Linked DNA regions of Homo sapiens. The protein of the gene in region 1 purifies or fractionates together with the protein of each later gene. This does not show direct contact. Each region holds a gene or a part of one and is shown on either strand. Other genes may lie near its edges. The genes, in order: RCC1, RANGAP1, NAV1 and RGPD8.

What was found.
Region 2: the proteins of RCC1 (region 1) and RANGAP1 purify together in Homo sapiens (affinity purification with mass spectrometry; 3 studies listed by BioGRID and IntAct, with this or other methods). This does not show direct contact.
Region 3: the proteins of RCC1 (region 1) and NAV1 purify together in Homo sapiens (affinity purification with mass spectrometry; 3 studies listed by BioGRID and IntAct, with this or other methods). This does not show direct contact.
Region 4: the proteins of RCC1 (region 1) and RGPD8 purify together in Homo sapiens (affinity purification with mass spectrometry; 3 studies listed by BioGRID and IntAct, with this or other methods). This does not show direct contact.

The regions. Positions count from the first base shown.
Region 1 is NC_000001.11:28,501,349-28,509,052, forward strand, and holds the start of RCC1 (regulator of chromosome condensation), read left to right. Parts: upstream 1-4,694; 5' UTR 4,695-4,736; intron 4,737-4,871; exon of another isoform or gene 4,872-4,979; intron 4,980-6,016; exon of another isoform or gene 6,017-6,223; intron 6,224-6,779; 5' UTR 6,780-6,812; intron 6,813-7,209; exon of another isoform or gene 7,210-7,414; intron 7,415-7,481; 5' UTR 7,482-7,557; exon of another isoform or gene 7,558-7,704. UniProt on the Homo sapiens protein: Guanine-nucleotide releasing factor that promotes the exchange of Ran-bound GDP by GTP, and thereby plays an important role in RAN-mediated functions in nuclear import and mitosis.
Region 2 is NC_000022.11:41,283,185-41,290,650, forward strand, and holds the start of RANGAP1 (ran GTPase-activating protein 1), read right to left. Parts: upstream 3,004-7,466; 5' UTR 2,802-3,003; exon of another isoform or gene 2,487-2,801; coding exon of another isoform or gene 2,360-2,486; exon of another isoform or gene 2,179-2,359; intron 1,970-2,178; exon of another isoform or gene 1,717-1,969; intron 1,659-1,716; exon of another isoform or gene 1,579-1,658; intron 599-1,578; exon of another isoform or gene 1-598. UniProt on the Homo sapiens protein: GTPase activator for RAN. Converts cytoplasmic GTP-bound RAN to GDP-bound RAN, which is essential for RAN-mediated nuclear import and export. Mediates dissociation of cargo from nuclear export complexes containing XPO1, RAN and RANBP2 after nuclear export.
Region 3 is NC_000001.11:201,534,653-201,542,126, reverse strand, and holds the start of NAV1 (neuron navigator 1), read right to left. Parts: upstream 3,001-7,474; 5' UTR 2,785-3,000; intron 2,109-2,784; exon of another isoform or gene 1,982-2,108; intron 1-1,981. UniProt on the Homo sapiens protein: May be involved in neuronal migration.
Region 4 is NC_000002.12:112,423,636-112,430,655, reverse strand, and holds part of RGPD8 (RANBP2-like and GRIP domain-containing protein 8), read left to right. Parts: intron 1-6,348; coding exon 6,349-6,416; intron 6,417-7,020.

The DNA.
Region 1 (7,704 bases):
AGGTTAAATTGTCTCCAGAAAGCTGTTTTGAAGATGAAGATTGCCCAGTGTTTGCCAAAACAATGAATGAATTTTGGGTCTCTGTGGATTTATATAACTGTACCCCAGGAAAAGGCAGGTCCAGCCCGGTGCAGTGATGCACACCTGTAGTCCCAGCAGCTTGGGAAGCTGAGGTGGAAGGATCAGTTGAGCCCAGGAGTTCAATACCAGCCTGGGCAACATAGACCTTGTCTCTTGAAAAAAGAGGAGCAGGTCCAATGGACACTGAATAGGCAAAGGATGAAATAATAAGCATAAAAAGATGACAATGTGCAACAAAGAAAATCCTATCCTTGAAGCCAAAATACAGCCAGCACCACTGTTTCAACGTTCTATTCCATTTCAGCCCTAGGAGGCATGAAGGGAAAACCAGGAATGACCAGCAACCCAGACCTCTTGCTCCATCTGTCATTTTGTGTGGATATTGTTAATTTCTTCCCCAAAGAATTTTGCCTCCTATGTAGAGCATAGAGGTCATCTGACAGGAACAAACAGCTTTAATGTTCCTTCATTTGGCACTGAGGACACACAGTCCTCAGTGAGGATTGTGGGAGGGGGAGCATTAAATAAATTATTTAATGCTTACCTCCTTCCTACCCTCACCCGCAACAAAGACACAATCTTCCCGTGACCCCAATTTCTCTTCAATCTATTACCCTCTCTCCTGCTTTTCCTATACTCCCTTCACACAATCTATTCCAATGTTAAACAACCCAAGTTCTCAGGCCAGGCAGCTGGGCTAAATGATTGACAGAGGAAGAACTAGTGATGGAGATGTAAACTGAACAGGCTTCTTGGCCTTGCTTCATAACCTCTGGTCTGTGCACATTGTTTTCCCTACCTAAGGCCATATTCACTCAGCTCATTAAAATCTAAACGAAATCCAAACCAATATGGCTTTCCTGTGGTCACCAGGGATTTCTCAGCCTTCGGTTATTGCACTTGGCTGCTTTGCAACATTTGGTGCTTTGGACAATGTTCTAGTCCTCAAAACTCTTCTTCCTTGGCTTCTGAGGCACCGCTGTCTTCTGGTTCTCCTTCCCTGACTGACCTTTCTCTGTGCTGCTGGCTTCTTCCTCGAACACCATTTAAATGCTGGGTTTTCGGCCAGGTGCGATGGTTCACGCCTGTAATCCCAGTACTTTGGGAGGCCGAGGCAGGTGGTTCACCTGAGGTCAGGAGTTCGAGACCAACCTGGCCAACATGGTGAAACCCCATCTCTACTAAAACTACAAAAAAATTAGCTGGGTGTGGTGGCATGTGCCTGTAGTCCCAGGTACTTGGGAGGCTGAGGCACGAGAATTGCTTGAACCCGGGAGGCAGAGGTTGCAGTGAGCCAAGATCACAACACTGCACTCCAGCCTGGGTGACAAGAGTGAGACTCCATCCAAAAATAAATGAATAAAATAAAATAAATGAATGCTGTGTTTTACCGGGTGTGGTGGCTCATGCCTGTGATCCCAGCACTTTCGGAGGCCAAGATTGGCAGATCGCTTCAGGCCAGGAGTTCAAGACCAGCCCGGGCAGTATAGTGAGAGGCCATCTCTACCAAAAATTTAAAAAATTAGCTGAGCATGGTGGTGCATGCCTCTAGTTCCCGTTACTCAGAAGAGGCTGAGGTGAGAGAATCGTTTCAGCCCTGGTGGTCCAGGCTGCAGTAGTCCTGATCACACCACTGCATTCCAACCTCAACAACAGAGCGAGATCTTGTCTCAAAATAAAATAAATGCTGGGGTTTCATGTCTTCCCATCACTCTCCTCATTCTTCCAAGACGACTTTAGCCACCATGCTAATTCTTACAACTTCTAAATATTTTATCACCAACTCAGATTTCTTACAGGAAGCCCAACCCCATATATCTAATTGCTCTTTGGACTTATATACAACCAGATGTTACTCAGGTAACTCGTATATACTCCAATGTGGACATTACTCCTCCCCCACTGCCTGCATTTCCACTTATCAAGGTTAGAGACCATAGTATGTTCAGCCTCCTAAGCCTGAAACTCTGGTATCCTCAAGTTCTTCTCTTACCTTGCAATTCCAGTGGGACGACAAACCCTACATCAGAAATGTCTTTTTTTTTTTTTTTTTTTTTTTTTTTTGAGATAGGTTCTTGCTCTGTTGCCCAGGCTGGAGTGCAGTGGCATGATCACGACTCACTGCAGCCTCCATCTCCTGGGCTCAGGTGATCCTCACACCTCATAAGTAGCTAGGATTACAGGAATGTGCCACTACACTCAGCTAACATTTTTTTTAAAATTTTGTAGGCCGGGGTCGGGCGCAGTGGCTCAAGCCTGTAATCCCAGCACTTTGGGAGGCCGAGGCAGGTGGATCATGAGGTCAGGGGTTCAAGACCAGCCTGACCAACATGCTGAAAACCCGTCTCTACTAAAAATACAAAAATTAGCTGGGCATGGTGGCGGGCGCCTGTAATCCCAGCTACTCAGGAGGCTGAGGCAGGAGAATTGCTTGAACCTGAGAGGCGGAGGTTGCAGTGAGCCGAGATCGCACCACTACACTCCAGCCTGGGGGACAGAGTGAGACTTCATCTAAAAAAAAAAAAAAATTTGTAGGCCGGGCACGGTGGCTCATGCCTGTAATCCCAGCACTTTGGGAGGTCAAGGCGGGCAGATCACGTGGTCAGGAGTTCAAGACCACCCTGGCCAATATGGTGAAACCCCGTCTCTACTGAAAATACAAAAATTGGTGGGGCATGGTGACACTTGCTTGCAGTCCCAGCTACTCGGGAGGCTGAGGCAGGAGAATTGCTTGAACCCAGGAGGCAGAGAATGCAGTGAGCCAAGATCGAGCCACTGCACTCCAGCCTGGGCAACAGAGCAAGACTCCATCTCAAAAAAAAAAAAAAAAAGAATTGCTGCGATAGTAAATAATGTACGTAATAAAGCATTCAGAACAAAATCTAATATGTAGGAGGAACACCATAAACGTTACTACTCAAGATAGCCCAGCTGTGATAGCTCTGTCTCTCTAGCCAACGTTTTTCCACCTTACACCACACTAAAAATTCCATCATATTTGCAACATTTCTTATGTATATATATCGTAAGCATTCTTTACTTGCCTACTTCATATTCAGAGGGTTTTGTGTGTGGTAAAATATACATAAAACTTGCCATTTTTAACTAGTTTAAAATGTATAGGGGGCCAGGTGTGGTGGCTCAGGCCTGTAATCCCAGTACTTTGGGAGGCCAAGGCGGGCATCACTTGAGGTGAGGAGTTCGAGAGCAGCCTGGCCAACATGGTGAAACCCGGTCTCTACTAAAAATACAAAAATTAGCCGGGCATGGTGGCATGCCTATAGTCCCAGCTACTCGGGAGGCTGAGGCAGGAGAACTGGTTGAACCTGGGAGGTGGAGGTTGCAGTGAGCCGAGATCACACCACTTCCTTCCAGCCTGGGCGACAGAGCGAGACTCCGTCTCAAAAAAAAAAAAAAAAAAAAAGTCCAGGTGCGCTGGCTCATGCCTGTAATCTCAGCACTTTGGAGGCCGAGGCGGGTGGATTGCTTGAGGTCAGGAGTTCGAGACCAGCCTGGCCAAGATGGTGAAACCCCGTCTTGCTAAAAATACAAAAATTAGCCAGGCACGGTGGCGGGCGCCTGTAATCCCAGCTACTGGGGAGGCCGAGGCAGGAGAATCGCTTGAACCCGGGAGGCCGGGGTTGCAGTGAGCCGAGACCGCGCCATTCCACTCTAGCCTGGGTGACAGAGCAAAACTCCATCTCGAAAAAAAAAGAAAGAGTATAGGGCAGTGCTTTTAATTACATTCATTCACACTGTTGTGCAATGGAGTTTTTTATTTTTTATTTTTATTTATTTTTATCCGGGCCAGGCCTGGAGTTTTTAAACTTTTATCTGATTCGTCTAGGGGCACTTTCATCTTATTTACCTTCACATTTATCAAATTATTTCTTTCACAGGTGACAGAGCAGATTCAATTCCTTTTGATACTCCGTATTTCTCTATATGTATTTTTTTCATTCTGCATTCTTATTATTCCAACGTTTTACTTATTTATTTGGAGAGAGAGTTTCGCTCTGTCGACCAGGATGGAGTGCATCGGCGCGATCTCGGCTCACTGCAACCACCGCCTCCCAGGTTCAAACGATTCTCATGCTTCAGCCTCCCGAGTAGCTGGGACTGGAGGTGCGCGGCACCATGCCTGGCTTATGTTCTGTATTTTTTGTAGAGACGGGGTTTCGCCATGATGCCCAGGCCGGTCTCGAACTCCTGGCCTCAAGCGATCCGCCCCTCACGGCCTTCAGAGCTGCTGTAATCACAGGCGTGAGCCACCGCGTTCGACTCTTCCAAAAACTTTTTGGCCAGTTTATCTAAGGGCATATCCTACAGACTGAGTCCAGTGATTGCACAGAAGTAAACGTCCTCTGCAGCTACATACCTACAAACCTATTTCTGTAACGTACATTCCCCAGCAAGGTCCCGCGGGAAGGATCCACTACCGCGAGAGGCCTCCCAGCCAGGAAGGGGTGGGGCTCAATCTGCAGTAGATTCCCAGAAGCCTCAGTGAGTTTCTGATTCTCTAACTGCGCATGCTTCTGCGCACGCGCAATAGACATTCCAGGACTTCCGGGCACTTCGTAAGGTTTAAAAAGGATGCTTCGCGTTTTCTCTCTCCTTTTTGGAGACAGATTCGCAGTGGTCGCTTCTTCTCCTTGGTAAGTGTGATCCTTGGTAAGTGTGATCAGATGCTTGCCACCGGAGTTGTGGGTCTAATGCTATAGATCAGTAGCCGAGCTTCCCTAGGAAGATCATATAGTATTTTATTTATTTACTTTTTTTTTTTTTTTGAGACGGAGTCGGTTTGTCACTCAGGCTGGACTGCAGTGCTCGTTGCAACCTCCGCCTGCCGGGTTCAAGCGATTCTCGTGCCTCAGCCTCTCCAGCAGCTGGGATTACAGGCACGTGCCACCACGCCCGGCCAATTTTTGTATTCTTAGTGGAGACGGGGTTTCGCTATGTTGGTCAGGCTGGTTTTGAACTCCTGATTTCCGGTGATCCACCACCCTCGGCCTTCCAAAGTGCTGGGATTACAGGCGTGAGCCACCGCGCCTGGCCGGAAATCATGTAATTTAAAACTATATATGGGTGTCTTAGGCGGCATCGGTCCCAACTCTAAAGTACGCGTTAGACGGGCCTGGGCCAGAAGTGGGCCATGGAGACCTCGGGACCCGCAGGGCTGCCGCCCGACCCAGCGAGCCTCTGAAGGTGCACCGCCACCCCCACTGTTTATCTTACTGCCTCATAGTAGGCACATTGTCGTTCTCAATATAATTGCACACAGTTTTATTCTGGATCCTCATTTGCCTTTAAGAATTTTCTCAATTTTTCTTTTTATTTGATCGCACCACTGCAACCTCCGCCTGCTGGGCTCAAGCAATTCTCCTGCCGCAGCCTCCCGAGTAGCTGGGACTACAGGCGTGTACCACCGCGCCTGGCTTATTTTTGTATTTTTAGTAGAGACGGGATTTCACCATGTTGGCCAGGCTGGTCTCCAACGCCTGACCTTGTGGTCCGCCACGCCAGGCCGAAGATTTTCATAATTTGGAAGCATTGCGTTTCGTAATTATGCTTTCTCGTATTTTTGTGATTTGGGTCATTTTTATTTTTATATTTTTAGGATTACAGGCGTGAGCCATCGTGCCTGGCCGATTTGGGGGTAATTAACAAGTCCACGTGTTTCATTTGAATTTAGGATAGCTGGGCCTAATTGTTGTCTTTGCTTCTGCGGTACCTTCCACATAGTACTAACCGCCTATTGTAAAGTAATTAGAATAGCTGAATATGCATGTTACCAGTCTAGAAACCGATTTTTTTTTAACACCCCACTGTGGACAGGGTGGAAACTCGTTTGCTTTCTTGTTTAAGATCTGTAGTAACATGAATGGATGAAATTGTTTCCTATTGGATTCTGTAAATTTATGCGTTACACTGATTGTCCAACGTGGATACACCCGGGAGGTCACTCTCCCCGGGCTCTGTCCAAGTGGCGTAGGGGAGCATAGGGCTCTGCCCCATGATGTACAAGTCCCTTTCCACAACGTTGGAAATAAAGCTGGGCCTCGTGTCTGCGCCTGCATATTCCTACAGCTTCCCAGAGTCCTGTCGACAATTACTGGGGAGACAAACCATGCAGGAAACAGCCTTCTAGAGCACTGAATCTGGATTGAAGTCTTTTTTTTTTTTTTTTTTTTTGGAGATGGAGTCGCTCTGTTGCCCAGGCTGGAGTGCAGTGGCGCACTCCATTGCCTCTGCCTCCCGGGTTCAAGTGATTATGCTAAGTGATTCTCCTGCCTTGGCCTCCTGAGTAGCTGGGATTACAGGCCCCCGCCACCACGCCAGGCTAATTTTTGTATTTTTAGTAAAGACAGGGTTTCACCATGTTGGTCAGGCTGGTCTCAAACTCCTGACCTTGTGATCCGCCAGCCTCTGGCCTCCCAAAATGTTGGGATTACAGGCGTGAGCCACCACACCTGGCTGGATTGAAGTCTTAATACATGTTTAAGAAAAATTGGCTAAAAAGTAGCCAGGCATGATGATAGGTAGCTGGAGGAAGGAGAATCGCTGGAGCCCAGGAGTGACCTATACTCAAACCTATACTCCAGTGCCACTGTACTCCAACCCCAGGCGATAGCATGAGGCCCCTCGTTGAAAAAGTTTAGGGTTTTGCTGTACTAATAGATTAATATCTTGTTTTGCAGGATTTGTTAAGGATTCCAAGTAACTCTTATTTGGTGAGTAAATCTGCTAATTGTTTTTTGCTTATCAGCTCTTTGTCAATGATTTCTGTAATGGAAATAGGATTGAAGAGACTTTTATTCTAGTTGGTCAGGATTTACCTCTGAGGCATTTAATCATTCTCAGAGCAATAGCCAAATATCGACTTTGCTGCATTTTTGTAGGCATGTTGACATAACTTCAACATATGCTCTGTTCTGTAAAAATTGCTTTTTTTAGTCAGCTCATTAAAAGTGCAAAGTAGTAAAAGCTGCCCTAGTGAACTGTAGGAAGCCTAATTGGCTTTATCTACATGTGTAGCCTGAGCTGAGAAAGATACTAGCCCTTGAAAATACTGTGGGTGATTAGCAATATTGGATTTGTCGGTTACTCCAATTCCTCACTAATGAGCATTCCAACGTGGATACCCTGGGAGGTCACTCTCCCCAGGCTCTGTCCAAGTGGCATAGGGGAGCTTAGGGCTCTGCCCCATGATGTACAGTCCCTTTCCACAACGTTGAAGATGAAGCTGGGCCTCGTGTCTGCGCCTGCATATTCCTACAGCTTCCCAGAGTCCTGTGGACAATGACTGGGGAGACAAACCATGCAGGAAACATATCTAGTATACTAGATTTTAAGTTGAAGTAGGATCTTCAGGAGTCTAATCATTATTTCTTTTCTTTTAGGAGAGAAGACGATCTGCACTTCGCATTTTGGCATTGACATTTAATTTTAGGGTCCTTTATATAGAAGGGAGAGTAGGTAAACTGATTTTTTTTTTTAACAGGGAGGGTTTGACAATCTTTGGCAGACTTGGAGCAAAAGATTGAGGTGCATTTCATGCCTCCTTTTGAGAGTCTTGCTCTGTCGCCCAGGCTGTAGTGCAGTGGCGCAATCTTGGCTGCAACC
Region 2 (7,466 bases), on another chromosome or scaffold:
ACACATTTAGTATGTGATTTAAAAAAAAAAGGGGGGGGTTGGGGGGCCGGGAGTGGTGGTTCACGGCTGTAATCTCAGCACTTTGGGAGACCGAGGCAGGTGGATCACGAGGTCAGGAGTTCAAGACCAGCCAGGCCAACATGGTGAAACCCCGTCTCTACTAAAAATACAAAAATTAGCTGGGCGTGGTGGCACACGCCTTTAGTCCCAGCTACTCGGGAGGTTGAGGCAGGAGAATTGCTTGAACCCGGGAGGCGGAGGTTGCAGTGAGCCAAGATCGCGCCATTGCATTCCAGCCTGGCGACAGAGCAAGACTCCAACTCAAAACAAACAAATAACAACAACAACAACAAAAAGGCATTAACAACAACAACAAAAAGGCATTATTAGGAAATAGTTAAATAAAGATATCAGGGATTGGGCCATGCACACATCTGGGGGAACATGATTCCTGCAAAGGGAATAGCAAATGCAATGGCTCTTGTAGGGGCAGAGGGTTGGAGAAACTGCAACAGGGCCAGTGGGGCTGAAGCACAGAGAGAGAGGAAAAAAACAAGGTAAGAGAAGAGACAGTTAACAAGGGGCCCAAGTCATAAAGCCCATTTGAAGAACAGTGGCTTTCGCTATAAGTGACAAGGAAAACCACTGAAGTTTTTAGCAGAAAGCAGATGTCATCTGACGTACATTTTGACAGGATCACTCTACTTGCCACATAGAGCCTGGCATTTAGAAGGTGCTCAAGAAACGACCAGTTGAAATTGCATAAAAATTAACCAGGCCAGGGCCGGGCGCAAAGGCTCACACCTATAATCCTAGTACTTTGGGAGGCTGAGGTGGGCGGATCACGAGGTCAGGAGATCGAGACCATCCTGGCTAACACGGTGAAACCCGTCTCCACTAAAAATACAAAAAATTAGCCGGGCCTGGTGGCGGGGGCCTGTAGTCCCAGCTACTCGGGAGGCTGAGGCAAGAGAATGGCATGAACCCGGTAGGTGGAGCTTGCAGTGAGCTGAGATTGCGCCACTGCACTCCAGCCTGGGCAACAGAGCGAGACTCACCTCAAAAAAATAAAATAAAATAAAATAAAATAAAAATTAACCAGGCCGGGTGCGGTAGCTCACGCCTATAATCTCAGCACTTTGGGAGGCTGAGGTGGGTGGATTACCTGAGGTCGGGAGTTCGAGACCACCCTGGCCAACATGGAGAAACCCTGTCTCTACCAAAAATACAAAATTAACCGGGCGTGGTGGCACATGCCTGTAATCCCAGCTACTCAGGAGGCTGAGGCAGGAGAATCGCTTGAATCTGGGAGGCAGATGTTGGGGTGAGCTGAGATCGTGGCATTGCACTCCAACGTGGGCAACAAGAGTGAAACTCCGTCTCAAAAAAAAAAAAAATTAACCAGAGTCGGGTGTAATGGTTCACTCCTGCAATCCCAGCATTTCCGGAGGCTGAGGTGGGCGGATCGATTGAGCACAGGAGTTAGAAACCAGCCTGGGCAGTATGCCGAAACCCTGTCTCCACTAAAAATACAAAAACTAGCTGGGTGTGGTGGCAGGTGCCTGCAGTCCCAGCTACCTGGGATGTAAGGTGGGAGGATCACTTGAGCCCCGTAGGTGGAGGCTACAGTGAGCTGAGATCTTGCTGCTGTACTTCTGGAGACCCTGTTTCAAAAAATAAATTAACCAGAAACCAGCCCAGTGCAATAACTCACACCTGTAATTCCAACATTTTGGGAGGCTAGGCGGGAAGATCACTTTAGACCAGGGTTCGAGACAAGCCTGGGCAACAGAATGAGACCCTGTCTCCACAGAAAAATTTAAAAATTAGCCAGGTGTGATGGCATCTGTAGTCCCCATGACTTGGGAGGTTGAGGTGGGAGGATCGCTTGAGCCCAGGAAGCCGACGCTGCAGTTCAGCGGTGATCGTTCCACTACACTCCAGCCTGGGTGACAGAAGGAGACCGTCTCTAAAAAGATAAAAAAATTTAAAGAAAAACCAACAAAAAAATTAACCTGAAACCCCAGCATCTCTTGCAGTTCTGAGATGGGACAATTTGAGGGTAAAAGGTGGTGGTGAAGCCTCCAGATAGAATAGGGACAGAACTTCTCAGCTGAACGGGGGCCCATTCCTCAGTCCAAGAGAGAGCGAGACAGAGATGCACCCCTCCACACTCACTTTATAAACCAAGAAACTGGAGCACAGAAACGTAAATTGATTTGTCCAAGGTCAGCAAAGGATCAGCGCCAGAGCAAAAGCAAAGGGCTAATAGAGAAACATCCTCTCCCCGCTCCGCAGCAACGTCAGAGACTTTCTGAGGTGAGATGCATGCTCCTGCAAAGCGTCAGCAGTGACTCACATCGATTCCAGGGACAGCGGCGCCAGCCCGGGGCCCCCGCGGGCGTGGGCCTGCTGGGAGGTGGCTCTGCGGGAGCGACGCGCGAATACAGGCCGCAAATGATAGGCGGGCGGCGCAGGAGCCCCATCTGGAATCCCCGGCGGACTCGCACCGCCTCCGGTTGACAACAATGCTAATATGAGACGCCACTGCTAGCAGCTGCAGGCTGAGCTGCTCTGGCGAGTCAGACGCCCTTTAAGCCTCAGTTTCCCCATTTGTGAAAGGAGCCAGCGCCGCTCAACAACCCCACTCCCACCGCCACCCCTGGGGCGCTCGGCCGTCGAAGGCTAAGTGAAGAAGGCCGAGGGGGCAGGCAGAAGGCGCACACGGGCGCCACGCCCTCCTCGCCCCGCACCCCTGTTCCAGGCAGGTGACGGGGAAAGGAAAGGGACCCTGACTCTACCGTAAACAGGCGGCGCCGCCGCGTGGGGGGAATCGAGCGCGCGCCTCCGCCCTCTGGGGCGGGGACGGATTTAGGGTCCGGGTCAGGCCGGGGTCGCCACCTCCGGATCCAGCGGTCCAGATGTCCAGCCGGCTAGTCTGTTAGCTCTCTCGAGCTCCCGGCCTCACGCGCTTCCAGCACCACCTGCTCTCCGCACCGCGGCGGATGATGGCGGAGGAGGAGGATTTTGAAAGCCGGCAGTTTCTTTGCTTCGATTTGATTTGTTCGAGGCCCCGGCCGGCTTGCCCTCGCCCCGCTCGCGCGGCCTCTCGGGTAGAGTAGTCCGGTTCCCCATCTGGGAGCGCGATGGGGCGCGCACCGCGAACTACCCGTCCCATGGCGCACCGCGCGCAGAGCGTCCTCCACCGCCCTCCTCTTCGCCCTCCCCTGGTGGCTTCTGGCTCTTTCTCGCAGAGACCGCAGGGAGGTGTTCAGCCGGGAGCGCCCAGAGACTACAATTCCCAGAATGCGTTGCACCCAGGTCCCTCAGCTCTTCCGGAAAGGTTTTGTTCGCGTAACTTTGTTGATAACAGGTACTGCTGGCTGCTGGGTCTCTTGGGCAAGACACAGGTATCCATTTCCCGAAAGAAAAGACTCTTTTCCGTCCCATGAAACTGAAAGGGCATTCGAAGGCTTCCACATAAATATGCACAAATTACCTGATAATTAAAAAGGGGAAATAGTAACTATCGTAGAGAAGCTCCGCAGACACCACTTGAACGGCCACGTTAACATCAACAGCAGGACAAGCTGACATTCATCGCACGCTTTCTGTGTGATGCACTGAGAAAAACACGGCGTCACCGTCCGGTCTATAATGCATGACCTTAGTCTAATCATGAGAAACCCAAGCTGAGGGACATGGTACAGAATAACTGATCTGTACCCTTCCGGAAATGTCTGTATTATGTAAGACAAAGAAAAACTGAGGAACTGTTGCCGATTACAGGAAACGAAAAAGACAACTGAATGCAAGACATGGTCCTGGATCGGATCCTGGGTGGGGATTGCTATAAAGGACAATACTGAAACAGCAAAACTTGACTATATTAGATAATAGTATTGTATCAATGTTAAATTTATTAATTTTGATTATGGTACAGGGTTATGTAAGAGACTGCCCTTGTTCTTGGAAAAAAATGCTGAAATAATTAGGGACAAAAAGGACATGATGTCTGCAACCTTTATGGTTAAAAGAAATATACCTATACATATACATAGAGAAAGCAGAGACACAAATGTGGCAAAATGTTAATCAGTTAATCTGGTTGAAGAATATGGGAGTTCTTTGAACATTTTTGCAACTTTTCTGTAGGTGTGAATTTAAGCATAAAAACACAAACAGCGTTTTTTTTTTGTTTTTTTTTTTTGAGATGGAGTTTCACTCTTGTTGCCCATCTTGGCCTCCCAAAGTGTTGGGATTATAGGCGAGAGAGTGTGAGACCAGCCTGGGCAACATGGTCAAACCCTGTCTCGACAAAAAATACAAAAATTAGTTGGACGTGATGGTGCAAGCCTGTAGTCTCAGCTAAGGGCCTGAGGCAGGAGGATCTGGAGCCTGGGAGCTTGAGGCTGCAGTGAGCCGTGATTGCACCACTGCATTTCAGCCCTGGCGACAGAGCAAGACCTTGTCTCAAAAACTGAAAAAAGAAAAAAAAAAAAAGTTAAACAGATCATGCAGGCTGGGCGCAGTGGCTCACACCTGTAATCCCAGCACTTTGGGAGGCCGAGGCGGGCGGATCACCTGAGGTCAGGAGTTTGAGACCAGCCTGACCAAAATGGAGAAACCCCGTCTCTACTAAAAATATAAAATTAGCTGGGCATGGTGACGCATGCCTGGAATCCCAGCTACTCGGGAGGCTGAGGCAGAAGAATCGCTTGAACCCGGGAGGCGGAGGTTGCAGTGAGCCGAGACGCACCATTGCACTCCAGCCTGGGCAACAAGAGCGAAACTCCGTCTCTAAATAAATAAATAAATTAATTAATTAATTAACAGATCATGCCATATCCTTTTACACACAGCTCATTTAATCTTCACCACCACAAGGGAAGTGGGCATCATTACCACCCTTCCCAGCACAGAGATGAGAAAACTGAAGCTCTAGACAGAGTGTAACTCTCCCAGTTCTCAAAGTTCCTGAGATGTGGATCCTCTTTCCACCTTCCCTCTCCTTTTTACCTACAAGGCCCATGTCAAATGCTACTTCATGAGTCTCTCCCTCCTGCAGGTGCCCACAGCAAGATGCAAAGCCCCACAGCAGTTGGCCTGGGACTCTGGGGCTCTTTGACAGAGTTAACACTGTTCTTGGCAGTTTCCTCCTCAGCCTGGGAGGGTCTCCAGAGCAGACGCTGTATCCATCTGGGCAGTATCTTCTCTGGGCCTGGCCTGTCATAGGTGCTTCAGGTTTCCCCATTTGAACCAGATACCAGTCGGGTTACCGGATGTTTGCTTAAAATGAGTCATAGGCTTCCTGCTATTCCTGTGCTGCTTCCAGCTAGGACTGATCGAATCAGTCTGGATTTTCCTTGGGGTGATCCGCAGGCTCCCTTTTCCAATTTTACTTCTTGAGACTTTCCTTGGCCCTCACACAGAGACCTCCCAAAGGGAAGAGGAAGGTGGGCAGGGGAACATCTTAGCTGATCCCGTCCTCATCCAGCTGATAGGACATTGGGTTTTCGGAACTGGAAGGGAATTCTTAGACAACAGAAATTCAGTGGCCTTCAAGGACCTGGGAGGTAACAGGAAGTCATGGGGCTTGTCGGGGCTTGGTGGGGCTTGGGGGGAGTTAGAGAGTGGATGTTCTGCCTGAAGGTGTTCACATTCGAAGCTAAAAATCACAAACTCAGCCTGACAGCACCCCCTAGCAATCTGGATTCTGTCACTCCTATATCCTGATTTTTTTTTTTTTTTTTTTTGAGATGGAGTTTCACTCTGTTGCTCAGGCTGGAGTGCAGTGGTGCGATCTCAGCTCACTGCAACCTCCGCCTCCCAGGTTCAAGTGATTCTTCTGCCTCAGCCTCCCGAGTAGCTGGGACTACAGGTGCACGCCACCACGCCCGGCTAATTTTTGTATTTTTAGTAGAGACGGTTTCACCATATTGGCCAGGATGGTCTCAAACTCCTGACCTGGTGATCCACTTACCTCGGCCTCCCAAAGTGCTGGGAGTACAGTACAGGCGTGAGCCACTGTGGCCGGCCTCCTGAATCTATCTTAAACCTCTTTACAAATGGGGAGACTGGGGTTTGAAAAGGAACAGGGGGTTTGCCCAAGGGTGCCCAGTGAATCAGAAGAATCAAGAATCATCACTGTTTCTGGCCGGGCACAGTGGCTCATGCCTGTAATCCCAGCACTTCGGGAGGGCGAGGCAGGTGGATCATCTGACGTCAGGAATTCGAGACCAGCCTGGCCAACATGGTGAAACCCTGTCTCTACTAAAAATACAAAAAATTAGCTGGGCATGGTGGCAGACACCTGTAATCCCAGCTACTCGGGAGGCTGGGGCAGGAGAATCTCTTGAACCCAAGAGGCGGAGGTTGCAGTGAGCTGAGATCACGCCATTGCACTCCAGCCTAGGCAACAAGAGCAAAATTCTGCCTCAAAAAAAAGAATCATCACTGTTTCCAAGCAACACACTTATCTTCTCTCTTTCTCCTTCCAGCCCTTTCTCCAGCTTTCTCTCTTTCAAGTTATCACCTGAGAGCTAGTCTGCCTGGCCCAAGAAGTGTAATCATGGCCTTTGACAGATGGATAGTGTCATCCAAGACTATCTTGTTCCTTATTTCAACAAATGAAGAACTAAGGCCCAAGTTACAGTGTGACTTACACATGAGACAAGGCTGAGCATGGTGGCTCACAACCAACTGTAATGCCAGCACTGTGGGAGGCCAAGGCAGGAAGATTGCTAAAGCCCAGGATTTGAGACCAGTCTGGGCAATATAGTGAGACTCTGTCTCTACTAAAAACAATTAGCCAGGCATGGTGGTACATACTTGGAGTCCCAGCTACTAGGGAGGCTGATGCAGGAGGATCCTTGAGCCCAGAACGTGGAGGTTGGTTGCAGTGAGCCATGGTCAGGCCACTGCACTCCAGCCTGAATGATAGAACAAGACCCTGTCTCAAAGAAAAAAAAAAAAGAGAGAGAGAGAGAGAGAGAAAGAGAATAGAAGACAGGTCTCTAGGGTCCTTTTCTATTATTATTATTACTTTTTTTTTTTTTTTTTTGAGATGGAGTCTCACTCTGTCACCCAGGCTGGAGTGCAATGGCACAATCAAGGCTCACTGTAACCTCTGCCTCCCGGGTTCAAACGATTCTCCTGCCTAAGACTCCCGAGTAGCTGGGATTACAGGTTCCCACCACCATGCCCAGCTTATTTTTGCATTTTTAGTAGAGATGGGGTTTCACTGTGTTGTCCAGGCTAGTCTCAAACTCCTGACTCAGGTGATCCACCCACCTTGGCTTCCCAAAGTGCTGGGATTACAGGTGTGAGCCACCATTTCCGGCCTTCTAGGGTTGTTTTCAACATATACACTTCACTTGTGAGTGCGAGGTGAGTTTAAGGGGGAATCAGGAGAAGCAGAGAGTGTTCCAGGCCTTTCTCTGTTGTGCAGCCTTTTTTTGTTGTTT
Region 3 (7,474 bases), about 170 Mb from region 1:
TGTGTAGCTCTGAGCCCATCCCTTCCCTTCAGTGGGCCTTGATTCTTGCCTGTAAAGGGGAGAAGAGCAGGGGTTGGGAGGAGTGGAGATCCTTTTAACTTTGACATTCTGGTTTTTCTTAAAGGCCAAACCCTTCAAGAAGTCAAAAGAACTTTAAAAGAAGAGGGAAGTGACACTGATTGGAAATAGGAAGGCAAAAATAGAGACAAATTGTAAAAGATGGATAGGAGATTTTTCTATTCTAGGCCACTCCTTTCTACTGGGCCCAAACTGAGTTGATACCAGAGGTTCACAGGGACTCAGGAGGGGGCTAGATTAGGCAAGAAAGGAAAAACAGCACTCCTTTAAAAAAAAGATGGAGTTTCACTCTTGGCCCCCAGGCTGGAGTGCAATGGCATGATCTCGGCTTACTGCAACCTCTGCCTCCCGGGTTCAAGCAATTCTCCTGTCTCAGCCTCACGAGTAGCTGGGATTACAGGCACCTGCCACCACACCCGGCTAATTTTCATATTTCTAGTTGAGACAGGGTTTCACCACGTTGTCCAGGCTGGTCTCGAACTCCTGACCTCAGGTGATCCGCCCCTCTTACGGGCATGAGCCACCGCACCTGGCCAAAACAGCATTCTTGTTTTCAGTTTCCCCAGGCCAAGGTTTATCAAAGAAGCCAGATCCCAGAAAAAGCCCAAATATTCAAAGCTTGCCTACTTACCCATGGGCAAATCAACATTTTTATGAACTGCTTTTGAGGGAAAAAGAAGTAGAGGGGGTCTGGGGGAGCAAATTAACTCCCAAAGAATGAATAAATGGCACTTAAATGAGATAGGAGGCCTTTGAATGCTACTTAGTTTTTCTCCCCAATTCTATTAGTTTGGCAAGCATCTATAAAGTGCCTACTGTGTGCTGAGTGTTGTGGGTGGTCAGATAGGGTGTTTGGCTGGAAGGTACTCACAGGAAGATAGGCATGTGCACAAACACCCAAATATCTAAAATACAAAGCATGGCACACTGACAATCAACAAAAACAAAAAATGCAAAGCAGAATGTGAGACCTGCCCCAAGGGAAATCAGATAAACTGCTGAAGAAGTTCAGATCAGGGGCTGTTCTCTTTCACCCGGAAATGGTGTTCTCTTTCACCTGGTGTTCTCTTTCACCTGGAAAGTTCAGGAAATAGACCCTAGGGGCTGGAGCCCAAATCTGAAAAACCTTCTTTATTCTTCCAACCGTAGCGATTTTTTCCTGGCTCCACTTTACAGAAGTGAAAACCAGGACAGAGACATGAGGAATTATTTGCTCTCTGATCATCCAGGTGGTTAGCAACACAGCCAGATAGAGAACTACAAACTGATGATTGAAAACTTCCCCTAAAAACTGATGGTGAAAGCACATACTACTAGGAAGCTCATCTTAGAAGACAAAATCCATAGAGCTGTTCCCTCTGTCTCCCTTCTTAGGTCAATCCCAAAGACACACCAACAAAAAGTCAAAGCAGGATTTAAAAAAATGTCATAAGCAAGCTGGAATCATATATATCTCTGGCCTAAAGGAAGCCAAGGTCTCTGCAGTGTCAGATCGTCAGATCCTCCTCCTGGGGAGGCCATTCTTTTTGCGAAGTCTCCAGTCCCATTACAAGTGAGTTGCCGGGGACTTCATGTAGGGGGAACAAGAGCTAGCCCACAGATGAAAACCCAGGCAAGCCCTCTGCTTTTGCACAGTGAACGAACGTGCCCACAGGCTTCTCAGCATTGAATTTGAACGAGCCAATGGTATCCCAATCATTGAAACAGGAAGCCAGATAAACAGCATGTTATCAAGGGGGGATCCAGCTCTTCCCTTAAGCCGGCGCCAGCTGCGCCCTGTGACTATCCTAACAAAGTCCCATTGACTCACCAGCTGATTTTCCTGTGTTCGGCTCCAGGGGACAAGGAACCCTCTCTGCCGGGTGGACGTCACCCCTACACACCGCCCCCGCCACCCGCCACTCGCGTCCTCTCCAGTTCCTGCCTCCCCTCTGCCCGCTGCAAACTTAGCTGCTTCTTTATCCTATGACCAGTTTTTATCGGCTCTGGGGATTAGCAGGGACCAGAGCCCAAGCCTCGGGAGCGCTCAGGTGAGCTCCCCGTGATCACCCAATTTCTGCGTTCTCCTCTCTCCCCTCTCCTCCGGGACCACTTTCTCCGCTCCCAGACGCACTGGGCGGGCGCCAGAGAGGACGGCCTCCGGGAGATTGGCGGGAGGGCGCTTCCCGGCGCATCCCGGGGGTGCGGGGAACGTTTTCTGGAACGGCCCGCGAGGTCACCTGCCCCAGCTGTTCCTCTGGCTCCTGCTGGGATGGGAGGAGTTAACTCTTGCTTCAACGAAAGGCAGAGGTGCGGGTAGGGTGTGTGCTTGCCGTGTGGGTGCGAGTATAAGAACGCAGCACCTGGTGTCTCATGATAAGATCTCAACGCACTTTAAATTGTGGGTATTTCACAACAAGGAAACTGAGGCTCAGAGGGACTGAAGTTAGGCAGCCCCCCCGGAGAGTCAACTCTAGAATCAAACGCGCAGTCAGTCCCATAGGGGTCGAAAGGGCACACACCTTCCCGGGAAGCCGCGAGCATCTTGGTTGTTATTTATTCCAGCGCCTCTCCCGAGCCCAGCCCACAGCCTCCCTCGGGCACCAACCTCCCCTACCCCGAGACTTGGTCTCGGCCTCGCAGGACCTGCCAGCCAAGCCTCGCAAAACGGGAAGCGCCAGACCCTCAGCGCCGCGACCGCGCGACCGCCCCGCGCCGGCCACTCACCGGAGCGCCTGCCCGCCCGGGCTCCGGGTCCGCGCCGCAGCCGCGCAGAGTCGCGCATCCCCAAGGGCAGCGCGGGTGCGGGGTCCGCTTCTCGCGAGCACAAAGTTTCCCGGGGCTCCCCAGGCCGCCTCGGCCCCTCGCACCAGGCTTGGCGTCCGCCGCGCACTCCAGCCTCGGGCCCCGCACTAGGGCAGCCGCCGGCCCCGGCCCCACAATGAGGAGGGAGGCGGCATCCTGAACAAAGTGCCGTCCCCTCGGGAACGGCGGCCGGGGCGGAGCCTCGTGACCCGCTGCCCCAGGCACACGCCGGCTGCCTCCACGGCGGGCCCAGGAGGGGAGTGCCTGGCGGCCGGGGGGCGGGCAGGAGGAGAGAATCCGTCCGATCGCCCTGGCTTTCCTCCCCCTGCACTGTGCCAGTTTAACCCGCAGAGGGGCGGAGGCATGGGTCCCTTCCAGACTTTGTCATTGGAAAGCTATTCCCGTAACCCTTTGCTGCCTTCGCCTTCCCGTCCCGCCTCCCAGGCTGGCCGCAGAAAGGCGGCTGCTCGGTGGCGGACCCGCGAGCTGGCAGGGCAGGAAGCCTTTGCACAATTGAGCCTTTCCTTTGCCCGGGGACCCGCCACCGCCACTTCCAGGCCGGGTTTCCTCCCTCCCCCACATGTCGTCCGGGTACCGCTCGCTGGTTCAGCCGCAGTTCTTTAGGAGAAGGGGACAGATGGATGGGCCAGCCTCTCCACCCGACTTCTGACCCCGGGCACCCACCTCCTTTCTTTCTCCACCCCACTGAACTGTCATGCTGTCTGAGCTGTCTTAGAGGAGGGGGAGGCCCCGCAAGTGCCCCGCAAATAGTAGGTGCTCAGTAAAATAAGTGACTTCTCCCCACCTTCCAGACAGCCGATGCCCCTCCTCCTTCTTCCAGGGACTTGGGAGTGGGAGGAGGGGGAAGAAGAGGAGAGAGGAAATGACAGGACCTGAGGAGAGTGAATGGGAGGAAGGCCCTCAGCCAGAACCTACTGCAGAAGCAGTGCAAGCCCCCTGCCTCCTGGCTTGGGGACTTCCAGGGTCTGCAGGAAGAAGGCAGAAGGAAGCCAGATGACCTGAGCTTTGAAGCAGGCTTTGGAAAGGGAGTAGCTGTGGCCAAGGACCCAGCAGATTCCCCTGCTCCTGCCAACAAATAAGAGGACTGATCTATTCCCAGGGCCATGGGGTTGCAAGTTGGAGGACTGATGGATAGAAAGCAAAACTGCCTACTCCCTGGGAGGTCTCACAGCTCTTTGCCAGCAAAATCAGTGTGAGCAGAGTCAGGATGAGAGCCCTTGAGTCCTCCCTGAACGCCCCACACAGTCAGTAAGGCCACAGTGGCTTTGAATTTGGAGAGATGAGACACCAGACAATGGACAAGCAGTGACATTCAAGAAGTTCCCAACTGATCAGGGAAAAAGATTTGTTGTATGATTTTTGTCCATGAAGGGAGTGAACTGCCTTTTGGCGCGGGATAAGGGGGTGGACTGCAGAGTGACACCCTTACCCTCTGTATAAAGACTAGAAGTGTGGGCTCTTAAGGCAGACTGCATGAGTTCAAATCCTGGATCAATGATTTTTTAGCCATGGGAACTTACTGAACTCTTTAACCTCTAGCTACCTCAGTTTCTTTATCTGTAAAATGGGATAATAATGGTTCCTATCTCCTAAGAGTGTTGGGAGGATTAAATGCGATACTATAGGTGACACACTTAGAATAGTGCTTGGCACATAGTAAATGCTCAGTGAACATTAGCTGTTACTTTGATCTTGGAGTAACTAACTCTTGGAGATCTAACTCTTGGAGATCTAACTCTTGGAGATGTAACTCTGCGCCCAGTTTGGCATTCAATGATGTGCTAGCTAGAATCCTTTTGTGCTCTTCCCAGTCCTGCAAAGGGGAGCCTAGTCCTTTAAGAAGAAGCACTGTCCTTTCTTGAGAGCTCAAAAGGTGGGACCCCAGGGACCAAGGACCACACAGTAGGTATGCAAATGACTATCAGAAGGTGAAATGACTCCTTGACCCATTGTGAGGCTGGATGCATAGCCCCCATCCACATTGGTAATGCTGGGATGATGTCATTCCTTGGGTGCTACCCAGAATGGAAAAGAAAGCCAAAGCTATAATTTCGTAAGGGTTAGATCTCTTCTATCAGTACACAGGATCAATATTTCTCTCCCACTTATGAGTGGCTGCTCATACAAGTTCTCCCTCACCCTGCTCCTAATGTCCCAATCAATATGGGTGACGGGATCATTTGTACCCCAAGCCTCAGCATCACACAATATACCCAGGTAACAAGCCTGCATATGTACCCCCTGAATCTAAAATAAAAATTCAGAAAAATGTCCCACTCACAGATTTCCAACAGTGAACCTGTATGTGTAGGCAAACATAATAGCATATGGACAGGTTGAGGGAGGAAGGAGTAAAGGGGCCAGTCTGGTTGGGGTGACAGGCAGAGGATATGAAAGCTACTGAAAGAGAAAGTGGATAGGACAGAGCGGCAGGGAGGAGAAGCCAGAAGAGACTCTGGACAGAGCACTGTTTGGGTAAGAAACAGGGTCCCGCCCATCCCAGAAGTGGCCTCTGCCAAATGCCTACTTTGTGAGTAGTTTTTGTCTGAACACAGTGATGACTCAGTTGCTCTGAGTCTAGCAAATGGATTTTCCTTAAATATGAAAATCAATAAGAGGTAAAGGCAAGGACCTCGCTGTGGGGAGGGGAGGATGGAGAGAGTGGGAGAGGTGCTGGGGCGTGAAATGATTTGTGAGTGATGGAAGGAGGGAGATTCAGGTTCACTGCAGGAGACCCTTGGCATAGTCACCTGTACCCCCACTCCCCACCGAGAAGGTGGCCTCCAGGACCTGCTGGCCTCACTGAGGCTCCTTAAAACCCAACAGCCCCTCTGTTCCCCTCCTCCACAGCTTAGAGCCAATCCTGCTTTGGGACAAGATGGGTAGCGAAAGGATTAATGTCAACCTGACAAATAAGTTTTAAAAAATCAGCCCAGAAGCTTGCTGTCACTCCCATAGAGTATCAGATCCGGCCTCCGACGAGATGAGAGTTTTGGGAACCCCAGGAAGTATGGCAAGTGACATTTTCAGCCCCAGCCTGATTTCTTTGGGGGCTTTGCCTGTTTTCCTGCCGCCTTGAGGTCTGTGGACCAATGCTAATTTGTTTCTTGGGTTATCTGACATGGGACTTTGAGGATTTGAACACACTCACAGCTCCTGCGTTCCACGTGGCCCACAGGGAGACTGTCTTTATCCTTCGGACTGTCTTGTTTGGGGCTCCCAGAGCAGTTTGTAAGGTCCTTGGCAGGAATATGAAGATAGCACATTGCTTTATTTTCTTGAGCACTTAATAAGCGTCACTGGAGCTTCTAAGGAGGAGTCCGAGGCAGCTTCTGACTTCCTCCTCTGAAGCACAGTGGAAAAACACTGGGCCCAGCTTCAGAAGACCTGACTCCATGCCTTGGTTCTGATGCTGGCTGAAGTGCATCACCTCAGTTTGCTCATCAGTAAAAGGGAGTGTTGACACCCAGAGGACAAGAATACCCACCTACCAAGGGCATGGTGAGTATTCAGTGAGATCATGGAGGAGAAAATGGTTTCTGCAGTGCTGCTCACATATAAGCAGAAGTGGGATTATCAAACAGAAAGCATCAGCTCATATTCCCAACCCCGCCCCACCTCCCCACCCCAGTCAAATTCACTGTGGTTATGGGCTCAGTGCTTGAAAACCCATTTTTCAGTGATAGAAATCTGACTGGCCACTAAAAATCCTTGTCCTTTCTAGCTTGATTCATTAACCAGTGAGGGGTTTCCTAGGCTAGTGGAATGGGGTTGGACATGGGCAAAACAGGCATCTCCATCCTTGGCCACTCGGGCCTCATGACTGGCCCTGGGCCCCCTTTAAGAAGGGCCCTCTGTGTTGACTGTTGGAGCTTACAGGGACCTGGGAGAAAGAGTCCATGGGGAAAAGCTGTCAGAGTAATGAATGTTTTACGAGAGTGAGCGAGTCACTGCCTTATCGGGAAGATGCTGTTTCTCACTCTCTCTCTGTTACCAGGAAGTGAGATGTACTGAAAGCCATCGTGGTGTTTTTCCAAAGATGGCCTTTGAAGAGGAGGTGTTTCTTTAAGGGGCCCAGGAGAATAGGGGTTGGGTTTGCAGGGAGAAAACCTGCCCCTTTAAGAAGCCTGGTTCTGGCTGTGGCAATCCTGTGGTATGGAAGATAATAATAGTCCCTACTTATATAGCATTTGCTGTGTGCCAACTGCTATGCTAAGCATTTAACATATATTAACCCATTTAATCTCCACAACAACCCTATGAAATCTGTACCACTTTTTATCTCCACTTTACAGGTAAAGAAATTGAGGTCAAGTGTCTTGTCTGGGTCTCAGCTAGTAAGTGATAGAGGTAGGATTTGAACTGAAGGAGTCTGGCTCCTGAGTCCATGTTTTCAAATACTACATATATGCAGAGGAAAGGAGTCTTGATAGTCTCCATAGCAGTGTGGAGAGCTTGATCATGTACTAGTTCAGCACATTTCTTTATTTCTTTTCAACAGCTTTATTGAGGTACAATTTACATATTATAAAATTCACCCACTCGAAATATACAACTCTAAATCTACAGAGTTCTGCAGCCATGACCAGAA
Region 4 (7,020 bases), on another chromosome or scaffold:
AAAAAAAAAAAGCAACCTTAGAGCCTTTCTGAGATTCTTAGTGGGGACCTTGGCTTCCAAAAGATTAAAAACCACTGGTCTAGACAGAAGTCAGAATGTTCTTTCAACTACATAACTTCTCCATTAAATAAAGTGGAGTGGTAGCAACATTTTGACGATTGGTTATTATGACCACCTCTCTTACACTTAGAGTCTTTTTTTCCCCCCCAAATTTAAAGTCATTTACATTAGAACCTGGGGATTTCAGCGGAATATGGATTAACTAGTGAGTAACTGGAACATGTGAAGCTATTCTGTAAAGTTAGGTTTGAGTGAAATGACAAAACAGGGTGCTTTGGATAGAAGGTAAAGAATGGAGGGAGAAGAGGCAGTGGCTGTGAAGAATATGAAGAGGTTAGTATTCTCCCCCAGTTTGGCAGAGGCTGGCCATCTGTGAACTGCCCATGCCTTCTAGAATGTCGGAGTTTTGGTGTGTGATGATGCGTCTGTATATCATATCTTTCTAGTCTTCCATTGTGCTTTCATTTGTTAGTCTTCTCTTGTTTTGCCATTTTTCTACTCCCTCACATGTGCTTTTGCCCTTCTTAAAAATATTCTTCGTCTGTAATCCGAGCACTTTGGGAGGCCGAGAGACCAGCCTGACCAATATGGTGAAAATCTGTCTCTATTAAAAATACAAAAATGAGCCGGGCGTGGTGGCAGCGCCTGTAGTCCCACCTACTCGGTAGGCTGAGACAGGAGAATTGCTTGAACCCTGGAGGCAGAGGTTGTGGTGAGCAGAGATTGCGCCACTGCACTCCAGCCTGTGTGACAGAGCGAGACTCTGTCTCCAAAAAAGAAAAAAGGAAAAAAATATAATTCTTTCTCTAGTTTTTCTTTTTCCCGATGGCTTCTGTTTAGTTTTTCTATGTTCTGTCAAGTCGATTTCTTATTCTGCAGCTGATTCCTACTTCTCAAAGTCTACTTGACAGCTCTTATTTTTATTTATTTGTTTTTTAGAATAGGGTCTTGCTGTGTTGCTCATCAAATTTTTGGGCGTAAATGATCCTCCTACCTCTGTTTCCTGAGTACTTAGGACTACAGGCAGGCACCTTTGACAGCTGTTAGTTGTTTTTTCTGCCCTTTACATCTATACTTCATACTTCTGAGTAACACACATATATACTTTTGTTATTTTTAATTCCCTTTCTCCCATTTTAGACATTTTCTTTTCTTTTCTTTTTTTTTTTTTTTTTTTTTTGAGACGGAGTCTGGCTCTATCGTCCAGGCTGGAGTGCAGTGTCGCGATCTCGGCTCACTGCAAACTCTGCCTCCGGGGTTCACGCCATTCTCCTGCCCCAGCCTGTAGCTGGGACTACAGGCACCCGCCACAACACTCGGCTAATTTTTTAGCATTTTTAGTAGAGACGGAGTTTCACCGTGTTAGCCAGGATAGTCTCAATCTCCTGACCTCATGATCCGCCCGCCTCAGCCTCCCAAAGTGCTGGGATTACAGGCGTGAGCCACCGCGCCCGGCCCCATTTTAGACATTCTGTACTGGCTATTATGCTCCTCCAAAACTGTCCTCAGACACTTTGGTTTGCCCCTCATTCTTTCAGTACTGTTACTGCAGTTTTTGTTTAAATGAATAGTTAACATTTATATAAATAGAAGGTAAATATTTTTGCATTTGAATTGCCCTTGTTGTGCAGTTTTTTGTTGTTTTTTTTATTATACTTTAAGTTTTAGGGTACATGTGCACATTGTGCAGGTTAGTTACATATGTATACATGTGCCATGCTGGTGTGCTGCACCCACGTTTTCCTGGACTGAATAATTGCTTTATTTTTTGGTTTGCTTGTATGTTGTGTTACTACTTGCTTACTTAAACTCAGCAATTTAAACCCTCAAATGTGGTCAAACTGGTCACATAATCCCATCAATTTCAGCTTAAAACATTGATTGATTGATTGATTGTCTGTCTACCTGGAATACCCTTACTAACCAACTTCTCCAACCCGGATTGGTTTTTCTTCCTCTTTGCTACACAGCTGTGCTCTTGGGACTTCCCTTTATCACCAGTTTGAGAATTCCCTTCATCTTTTTTCTGAGTTAGACCCTTTGTTTCTTGTATCTCATGTCCTCTTCATTTACTTTCTTTGTTTTGGTGTAGCATAGTCTCACTTGCTTTGAGGAAAAGTGGATGAGAGGTTTTTTTGTTTGTTTTTGTTATGGGACAGAGTCTTGCTCTGTTGCCCAGGCTGGAGTGCAGTGGCATGGTCTCAGCTCACCGCAACCTCCGCCTCCCAGGTTCAAGTGATTCTCCTGCCTCAGCCTCCCGAGTAGCGGGATTACAGGTGTGCGCCACCATGCCCGGCTAATTTTTTCTATTTTTAGTAGAGATGGGATTTCACCATACTGGTCAGGCTGGTCTAGAAACTAATGGTATGTCTTTAAAACATCTTTACTTAATTTAGTTGATCATTTGGTTATCGAATTCTGAGTTTCAAATAATTTTTTTTGCAATTTTGAAAGCATTGCTCCATTTTCTAGAAGTTCTGTTGTTAGGAGTCCCATGAGATTCTTGTTCTTGGTAACTTAAAGGTTTTCTGGAAGTGTCCTTTCAATTGGGAAACTCATTTCTTTCAGTTCTGTAGCATTTCTTGTATTATTTCTTTGACCATTTCTTACCCTTTTTTTTAATGATGTTTACCTGAAAGCTGGAGTTTCTCTAATTTTTCTCTTATTCTCCTCTTTTGTTTGTTCTGCCTTTTGAGAGATTTCCTTACCCTTATGTTCCAGGGGAAGAAGATTGGGGAACTCATGGTTCAGTATCTAGACTTTTCCTCATTGTCCTGTATAATCACGGCCTTCACCCTTGTTGGGACTCCACAGATTTGGAGCTGATCAGATGGGTTTGTTGAGAACAGCAGCTTTTTTGGAGGATTTTAGGGGGAGGGAGATTCATTTGACTGTGCAAGATGGGCGACAGGGTGAGACTCCGTTTGAATTAAAAAAAAAAGAGAGAAATTTAGAACTGCATAATGAAAAAGTAGGCCACAAATATTAAGTTTTGGACAATTACAATTACATCTCTATCTTACTGTGCAAGATAGCGATGATGTGGCATCTCTTAGGGTCTTACTGTTCCTGTTTTCAGCCCTGCATCAGTTCTTGATATTTGGCAGCTTAAGTGAATTCAGGTATTTGCTTATAGTGACATCTGCTGTCATGTAAAGAAGTACTGCTTGCATCAGATATTGTCCTGTTTACATAACATGGGCTGTGCTCCTTTCTAGCTGTATATCTTTAAACAAGGCATTTGTCTGCTTGAGCTTCAGTTCCCTTGTAAAGTGAGCAGGTTAGAGGCAAAAGATCATATAGAAGAATAATTTGTAAAGTTGTTTAATTATCTTAAGATTGTCTACTTTAATAACATAGTTGGAAGCAAAGAAGGTAATGGAATTATTTTTCTATTATGTTTTAACATAGTTGGAAGCAAAGAAGGTAATGGAATTATTTTTCTATTATGTTTTGGCATTGTACCTTGAATCTATTTCTTCATTTTGAAAAGGGGGAACTGGCCGGGCTCGGTGGCTGATGCCTGTAATCCCAGCACTTTGGGAGGCGGAAGAAGTCAGATCACAAGGTCGAGAGATCGACACCATCTTGGCCAACATGGTGAAACCCCATCTCTACTGAAAATACAAAAATTAGCTGGGCATGGTGGCGTGCGCCTGTAGTCCCAGCTTGTACCCGGGACGCAGAGGTTGCAGTGAGCTGAGATCGAGCCACCGCACTCCAGCCTGGCGACAGAGCAAGACTCCATCTCAAAAAAAAAAAAAAAAAGGAAGGGGGGAACAGGACTTGTTCCTTTATGTGCTGTCCTGACTGTTGTGTATTATTTTTGTTAAGATTGCTATAGTTCTTTTTTTTTTTGAGACGGAGTCTTGCTCTGTCGCCAGTGCTGGGATTGCAGGTGTTAGCCTGGCATTGAGCAAGGTTTTGTAATTTAAGCATACAAGTCTCTCACCTCCTTGTTTACATTTATTCCCAGGCATTTTTTTCTTTTAGATGCGATTGTAAATGGAATTGCTTTCTTAATTTCATTTTCTGATTGTTCGTTGCTGGTACAGTAGTCCCTTCTTATCCACAGTATTGCCTTACGTGGTTTTACTTACCTGCGTCACCCGTGGTCCAAAAATATTGAATGGAAGATTATATAAATAAACATTTCATGAGTTTTAAATTGCAAACAGGTCTGAATAACATGATAAAAATCTCACGGCCTCCTGCTCCGTCCTACCCAGGACACGAATCATCCCTTTGTCCAACATATTCATGCTGTATGTGCTCCCCACCCGCTAGTTACATACTAGCCACCTCAGTTATCAGATCAGTTGTTGGAGTATTGCAGTGCTTGTGTTCAAGTGACCTTTATTTTATTTAAAATGGCACCAAAGAGCAAGAATAGCGATGCTGGCAGTTCACATATGCCAGAGAGAAGCCATATAGTGCTTCCTTTAAGTGAAGAGGTGAGTTTTTGACTTAGGAAAGAAAAAAGATCATATACTGGGGTTGCTGAGATCTATGGTAAGAACAAATCTTTTGTCCATGAAATTGTGAAGAAGGAAAAAGAAATTTGTGCTAGTTTTGTTGTGACACCCCAAACTGCAAAAGTTACAGCCACAGTGTGTGATAAGTGCTTAGTTGAGATGGACAAGACATTAAATTTGTGGGTGGAGGACACAAACAGGAAACATGTTTCGATTGATGGCAACCTGGTTTGGTACTATTCATCGTTTTGGACATTCACTGGGGTCTTGGAATTTCAAAAATAAGATGTTTGAGTAGCTGTATACTCTATCACATGGATGGAACATACTCTGGTTGTATCAGCATTTTTTTTTTTTTTTTTTTGAGATGGAATCATTCTGTTGCCCAGGTTGGAGTTCAGTGGTGCGATCTTGGCCCACTGCAGCCTCTGCCTCCCGGGTTCAAGTGATTCTTTGCCTCAGCCTCCCAAGCAGCGGGGATTACAGGCGTGTGCCACCATGCCCAGCTAATTTTTGTATTTTTAGTAGAAAGGAGGTTTCTGTATGTTGGCCAGGCTGGTCTCGAACTCTTGGCTTCAAGTGATCCACCCGCCTCAGTCTCCGAAAGTGCTGGGATTACAGGTGTGAGCCACCGCACCCAGCCTGGTGTGCATCAGCATTTTGGACTTTGGAGTTTATGTAACCAAGGATCCAGGCTGTGGACCTCGTTTATTACTTGAAGAATTCAATATTTATTTCTGCCTTTTTGACTCCTTGACTGTAAAATACTGATCTGATCTGTAGAGAGAACAGTACATGGACCCGGGAATCCTCAGTGCCTTAATAGATCCTAAGTACTTATTTATTCTTTCCCATAGAGGCTTACACATGGTAGGAGAAGAGATTTCTGGAATACCTTTCCTCCCCAAAGAAAGCTGGTTTCTTTTGTTTGTTAAGTGAGAGAGTGGTACCACAGGGTTTCCGAGATTTCCAAGGCTGATGAAAATTCTTAACTTCTGTTGTCTGCTTGTCTTGCTTTCTTGAATTTATTTTTTGTATGTTATGTATTTATTATTTAGAGAGAGGATCTCCCTGTGTCACCCAGGCTGGAGTGCAGTGTCACAGTCATAACTCACGGCAGTGTCAACCTCCTGGGCTCAAGTGATTCTCCTTCCTTGGCCTCCTGAGTAGCTAGGAACACAGGCATGCTCCACTATGCCTGGCTATTTTTTTCCCCCTGGAGACAGGATCTTGTTGTGTTGCACAGGCTGGTTTCAAACTCTTGGCCTCAAAGCTAGCCTCCCACCTTGGTCTCTGAAAGTGCTAGAATTAAATAGAATTAAAGGTGTGACCAACTGCACCCAGCTTATTTATGATGATGATGATGATGATGATGATGATGATGTTTGGGAGATGGAGTCTCTGTCGCCCAGGCTGGAGTGCAATGGCACGATCTCAGCTGACTGCAACCTCTGGCTCACTGCAACCTCCACCTCCTGGGTTCAACTGATTTTTGTGCCTTAGCCTCCTGAGTAGCTGGGATTACAGGCACCCGCCATCATGCCTGGCTAATTTTTCTATTTTTGTAGAGACGGGGTTTCACCATGTTAGCCAGGCTGGTCTCAAACTCCTGACCTCAGGTGATCCGCCCACTTCGGCCTCCCAAAGTGCTGGGATTACAGGCATGAGCCGCTGCACCCAGCTCTATTTTTTGTTTTGTGGTAGGAAATTATAAAACATGGAATTATGCATTTGTCAGGCTTTAACTACTTTTGAAAAAATGTTGGAAAATATTTCTGTATGAAACATAAAACAACTTTTAATTTTTTTTTAGAAGTCAATGAAAGGATTCTATTTTGCAAAGCTGTATTATGAAGCTAAAGAATATGATCTTGCTAAAAAGTAAGTACAAACCGTAACATGTATTCTTTTTTTTAAAATCAATGCCTTTTCTCATTTTCTTCTTTGAAATAGGTAAAAATATGTTCTTAGTAGTTCTTCCTAAGTGTATTCTGGAATAAGGGATTTATCACTCAGACTGATGCTAAGGACCAGCCTAGATTCCATTGAGATTGAAACTGCAATTAGTGTTTTCTGCATGCTGCTGCTTTATACCAAGGGCAAGAAATTGTTTGGCTTAAAACACTTTTTCTAAAAATTGTCTTCTGTTGGAGTAAAAGAGGACCATGCCTATATCTTAATTTGTTTTTGGTTAGATATCTGATACCTTAATCAGATGGAAAATAGCAATGAATAAAAAACTAAACTGTAATTGTAAGGCAGGAGAATAGCTTGTATAAAAGATCTTTAATTGACACAATATGTGATGCTGTAAGGCTCTATCCTAGGGATAAGAAGCTTGGTGATTCTGATTTCCTGGCTGGGAGTGGATTAAAGCAGGAAATTAAGAGGGAGGCAGGCTTTTTTTTTTTTTTAGGCAGTATCTGTCTCTCTTGCTCCGGCTGGAGTGCAGCAGCTGGCTCCATCTTTGCTCACTGTAACCTCT